2 separate regions of the Homo sapiens genome follow, and region 2 is linked to region 1. Evidence: fine-mapped expression QTL. A gene starts in region 1. The other region holds a variant in brackets. All regions are shown on one strand. Distances are between the middles of the regions.

Region 1 (2,917 bases):
CCCTGCTGTGAGAGGACAGTTAAGATAGGTCCCTGCCTTAAGAATATTGTAACCCAACTGAAGAAATAGGATGTGGAAGAACTAAGATGTCGATTAACAGCACAAGGCACAGAAGAACTAAAGTGTCAACTAACAGCACAAGGCACACACAGTGTAAGTCTCAGCCAGTTCATATGGCCCATATCCAACAATACCAACCCGTGTTGAACATTTATTATACAAGTGCTTTACAAGTATTTTCTTATTAAAGCTTCACAACCCTATGAAATAGATACAATTACAGTCTCTTTAAAGAACTTGAGTAGCATATCTAAAGTCATGCAGTTAAAAAACAGTTTCAAGGTCAGGTCTGATTCCAAAGCCCAGGTGCATAACCACAGAGCCCCTGCAGCTTGTAGAGCTCACAGTGCTTGGGACTGGCCTAGGAAGTCAAGGCTAGATGAGGAAGGGTACTCGGAGTTAGGCCTTAAAGTGGGCAACACTGAAATAGGCCAGTGATGGAGATAGGTCACTGTGTGGCACTGCGGTGGAAAGAGGGTTGGAGAGAGAAGATAGAGGAGAAGAGGAAAGAGGGCAGAGCATGGCAGCTGCTTGGGCACAGCCACTTTAGGGTGAGAGATGAGTGAAGATGTCTACCTTGTAGGCCATATCAACATGTCCCCCTTCTTCTGTGAAAAATGCCATCATCCCACACAGGAAGAGTTGGAGAGGGATCTGACAGTGGAGTCTGGTAGGAAAGGAGTCTGGCTTTTCATTTGCGCTTCCTTCTGCCCCTCTTGCCCCAGAGCAATATCCCAGGCTTTCCACCAACCCAGCCCACGGGGTGGCCATGCTACAAGCCTTTTGAGTCCTGCATCCCAAGAGGGGCAGCTTCTTGGCCTGAAGTTGTCTAATAGAGCCTGCCTGGCTCCAAGCAGGCCTCATCTCTGCTCTGTCTACTGGATCTGGGCTCTGAACTGGGGTGGGAGGTGGGGAAATGGGGAGGCTGGTTCAGGCTACCACTTCCTCTCCTCACCATTGGATAGCCAGCCTTTCAAGGAAAGTAGGGGGCCAGTTCTGTGGCATAGAACAGTATAGTTCTTAGGCCCTCCTATTTCAGAAAAACACTCAAGCAGTGTTTTCCCTCTGCTCTCACACCACGACAACAGTCATCAACACAGAAGACTTCTGCGACCAAATGTAGGGGATTTTCCCCCACACACCAAGCAGCGGGCACCAGCTGGGTGTCCTCCAACTCAGTTCCAACACTATCTACCTGGAAAGAGTGTCTGATCCCACAGGTTGAGGGCTCAGTCAGATTAAGAGATACATACGCGACGTCTGGAAGATCCCGAGCACAGGACCTTCCGTCCTGATAGGATAAGTTCTTCTTCACCTTCCTGTTTGCCTCCACGTGTTCAGCCCTCCAGAAACTCCCTGAACCCTGTCCTTTGGGCCTTTTATGGAGATTTCATTTGTTGTCCATGACTGAAGCATGTGATTGAACAAAATGTGATTGGACAAAAAGGGTATGATCTAATCTCAGCAAGGTCTGTCTGTCCAGATTCTTCTTCCTCTCTTTGTGCAGCATTCCTTCCTCCAGGGTATGGGGCATGACCTCCTCTGGAATGAGGGTCTTATGACCCACAATCAGATTATAGAGTCCCGCCTTGGGTGGATGAAAGGAGGGCAAAGAAGGCCAGAGAAATATTCTGTTTCCTGAGGCCTAAAGCACCTCTACATTATAGCAAAAGACCTCAGCAAGTGTCATGGGAGTTATGGACAAGAACCATGGACAAAAATCTATATACATGTAATCATAAGATCACACCCCCCACCACACACCACATTGTTCTACATAGAAGTGCCTTCACTATACAGCTTTTCATTTATTCATTCGTTCATTCACTCATTTATTCAACGGGTAATAGTGAATTCCAAATCAGGAACTGTGCTATGTGTTGGGGGTGACATGGCCCCTAGCCTCAGGAGGCTTCTATTCCATGGTTAATGGTGGGTATTGCTGAGAGATGATCAGTCAACAGTAACTGCAATGAATGTTAGGATAAAGAGAAGCCCAGAAGGCTCCACGGTGTTCCAGCTGCTCACAGGGTAATCTGCCTGTCTTTTTTACTTCCGTATCTCCAATGCCCATTATCATACCAGGCACAGGAAGTGCTCAGTTAAGTGTTTACTGAATTAAATGAAGATCTGAATGATGCTGAGTGTCAACCCTCCCTCTCAGTGGCTCCTCCCCATTGGCCCTAAACCTGATACCTGGATGAAAAGAGATAAGGATACATGACAGTTCTTCAAGTAGGTCACAGAACGTTTGAGTTGGGAGGAAATGGACAAAGCTTTTTACATCACTGCCATCCCCTCCCAGTCATCATATCCCCACAGTGGGGGTACTTTATGAAACACTTGGACCTTCATGCTTTCCTAATTTCTTCTTATCCTGTATGCTCTTCTAAGAATACTGAAGTTGGTCAATGTTCCTATTAAAACTCAGGAATCTAAACTTTGACTCAGAATTTCTGATTGAGATGTCACTTCAGTTTCCTTGTGCATTCTCAGAGGCTCTACCCTGGCTCACCCTGGAGAGTAGGGGGCAAGAAGTCTGATACTACTCAGCTTTCTCTCCTGTGCCAAAAAATCCTACCTGCAAGAATTGGTATGTGTATTAGTCCATTCTTGCCTTGCTATAAAGAAAAGCCCGAGACTGGGTAACTTACAAGAAAAGAAGTTTAATTGGCTCATGGTTCCACAGGCTGAACAGGAAGCATGGCAGCACCTGCATCTGGGGAGGCCTCAGGGAGCTTTTACTCATGGAGGAAGGCAAAGCAGGAGCAGGAACATCTCACATGGTGGGAGCAGGAGGAAGAGGGGCCAGGAGAGATGCTACACACTTTTAAACAACCAGATCTCATGATAACTC
Region 2 (2,917 bases), 110 kb before region 1:
CGTCCACATAGCCCGATTCATTGGTCACCTCCTCCAACCTGTCCAGATGTGTTTTGAGGGATTCAGCACAGACTGTGACCATACGAACAAGGCCGGGGCCTGACAGAGCTGCAGAGTACACATCAGAGAATCAGCCATCACGAACTCCAGGGCACACACACAATCATGCCATTTTGGCTTTTTATGTTGGAGCTTAATTGTCCACAATTTTTAATTTAATAATTGGGTGGAAGTTTTCATAATATTTTCGTATGCTTTTCTGTGGTCTCCTAATTTTACATAAGCATGTACTATCCTATGGTTAAGAATGAATGAACGGAAGGAGATAGGGACAAATATTATTTTAAACAAACTATTAAAAATTAAACTTTTTTTCATGCTCTAGCCAGCCATTTATGAGATTGCAAATGAAACATTTAGTACTTGTGGTCATAAATCACAAATCAGTGATTTTTTCATATTTATTGCATACATTTCCCTCCAAAGATGATTTGGATTTGCCTAGGGTCATATTTATTTTGCGTTTCAACAGGTGGCAGGATATTATTGGAAAACTGGTCAAATTGGATCCTATTTGATCTAAGGTGCTTCCTGTTTAAGTGTAAAAGGCTAGTTGTAAAAATCCCCCAAAGTGCCCTTCTCTTAATTTTGATTTCTCTTCAAACTACTTCCAGGTTTATTTTACTCAGCCAATGGCATGACAGCTAAGCAATTCCTTGCTTGCTTACCAGTCTTCCCTCACTGAACTGAGAGCTCTTTAAGGACAGTGACAGCCACTCATTAGCATTGCACTTCAAGCTGATGGTCCATGGGGGCCTTCATACATATTTTTTCAATAGAGGAATGAATGAATGAATGAATGAATGAAAATAGAGTAAACTGGCTTTGATCTTACTCTTGCCCTGTTCATATCTGAGCAGTGGCTGGTGGGTCCTGATGGTAGGTGGCCTACACAGGAGGGTTTAACCCTTAAAGTGCCCCTTTCTCTCTTTGTGTTACGTTTCTTTAAGCATCTTTTAGGAGTAATCTCTTTTTAAGTCTTTTATTATTCAGGTTTGCTGTTAACATCAGAGTCTTTGAAATGAGATGAAAAATATTGGGAAACTTTGTAGACGTAACTCCAGAAGAAGACTATCCTCTCTCTCTCTCTCTTGCTCTCTCTCTCTCTCTCTCTCTCACACACACACACACACACACACACACACACACACACACACACTGGGTTAAGCTGCGGAATCCCCATGCCTAAAGGTATACTTTGCAAATAAGAAAGGAGGCCTGAGGACTGGTCCTAGACTTTTGAGATTTCCATACATCTTGGAAGGAAGGTTGAGGAAGGAGCAGGCTTTCTGACCATAGGAAGGACTTGGCAGATATGAAAGGCCAGGATGTTGTTCTCTGGGTGACTGCCACTTCAGCAAGCAGGACAAATGACTCAACCCTTTGTGTGGAAGGGTTGGCTTAGAATGTCACTTGTGGTTTTCTCCCAGGCCGATGCATGATTTGCCTCTGTGTTTAAAGAGCTTGAAGCCACATGCCAAATTTATGGGCAAAAATGTAATAACATGGCTTATAGGCAGTGGTATGATGTAGATATGATTTAATTTTTAAAATATGCTAAAAAGTATTGACTCTATCTAGTGAAAAGAAAATTGGGCAACAATCAGCAAATACCATCAATATGGACAC[A/G]TTTCTCGGCAGTTTTGGGAAACACATGCTATTTCTTCACCCCTCGCCACCACCCTTCCCTACCTCCCAAGATGGGTCATTGCCTAAGTTGCACTTAACTATTTCTCTACAGACTCACCCAGTAAGTCAATACTTTCATTAATGTTACTGATTTAGATACTAAAACTTGTGCCAAACTTTCCACTATATCAGGAAAACCAACAGGGAGTCTAACTCCAAAAGGAGATTCACTGAAAAATGCTTAGGACCCTCATTGATTATAGAAATGTCAGACACCACAGTGAACTTTCCAATAAGCAATTATCCCCCTATTTCCTGAGATTATGAATTTGGGTCCAGTTATGTAGCACTTTTTGTAGAAACCCTGATCTTGCCTATAGAAGGCTGTCTAAAAAAAAATCACAAAGATGTTTTGCTTAATTTCCAAGTACTATAGGCTCTACTACTGTAGGGTCTACCCTTTTGACATTTCTTGAAACCACAGCCTCCCCTCCACCCTTCCTGCATCACTGCAGTAGCTCCTAAATGTTCTCACTGCTCACAATCCTGCTTCCTTCCAATTAGTCATTCTCTCTGCTACCAGAGGGATTTTTATAAAATACAAATATGTTTATGTTATTCTGCTTAAAATCTTTAGTGATTCTCCATAGTTTTTGAGATAAGCTCAATTCCTTGCCTTAACTGAGAGGTCTTTGGTGATCTGGCCCTGCCCTCCCCTTGGCCACGTCCCTGAATGTATCTGCACCAGGCACAAGGACTTACCGACAGGGCCCTGGATGCATCATGTCTATCTATTTGTCTGTGCCTTTGGTTATCCTATTCTTTACTCCTAGAATATTTGTCTTTTGTTTTCTTAATTAGCTTCTACCTTCATTTAAAACTCATTATAAGCATCCATTCCTCTGAAAAGTCTCCCCTGCCCCTCAATGTGCTTTAGATGGCCTGTTCATCTGTACTTGGCATCACTCTGGGCACACCGCCAGCATTACCATCACCTAGGGTAGTATTTGGTGATGTGCTGGGCTGCCCCTTCCTAATTCAAACCTCTCTCCCCCATTATAAGTTCCTGGAGGGCAGGAACCACATCTTGTTTGTCATTGTATCTTGGTACCTAGTTCAAAGATGAGAACGGTGGGGTGTTAAACAAATGGATGAACTTAGAGATTCTTTTAATTAGCTCTTGCATGTCAGGGTAGAGGATATTGGTATGTGAAAGTTAACTACTACT

The links. PIP is the estimated chance that this variant, and not a neighbour inherited with it, causes the effect.
Region 2: its variant is fine-mapped to the expression of CYP19A1 in fibroblasts (GTEx, PIP above 0.99). The same link has a PIP of 0.9 or more in whole blood.

Annotation. Positions count from the first base shown.
Region 1 is chr15:51,337,182-51,340,098 of GRCh38, forward strand. CYP19A1 (cytochrome P450 family 19 subfamily A member 1) reads right to left here and starts at 1,415. Exons shown (of 10, transcript NM_000103.4): 1 at 1,314-1,415. RefSeq lists promoters at 1,340-1,917, 1,340-1,658, an enhancer at 1,579-1,658 and cis regulatory regions at 1,610-1,627, 1,692-1,721.
Region 2 is chr15:51,222,418-51,225,334 of GRCh38, forward strand. CYP19A1 (cytochrome P450 family 19 subfamily A member 1) reads right to left here. Exons shown (of 10, transcript NM_000103.4): 5 at 1-108. All of the region lies in intron 1 of MIR4713HG (MIR4713 host gene), which reads left to right. Among named protein-coding and RNA genes, the nearest start is that of MIR4713, 18 kb to the right of the region's middle. The variant A/G (reference allele first, on the strand shown) is at 1,690.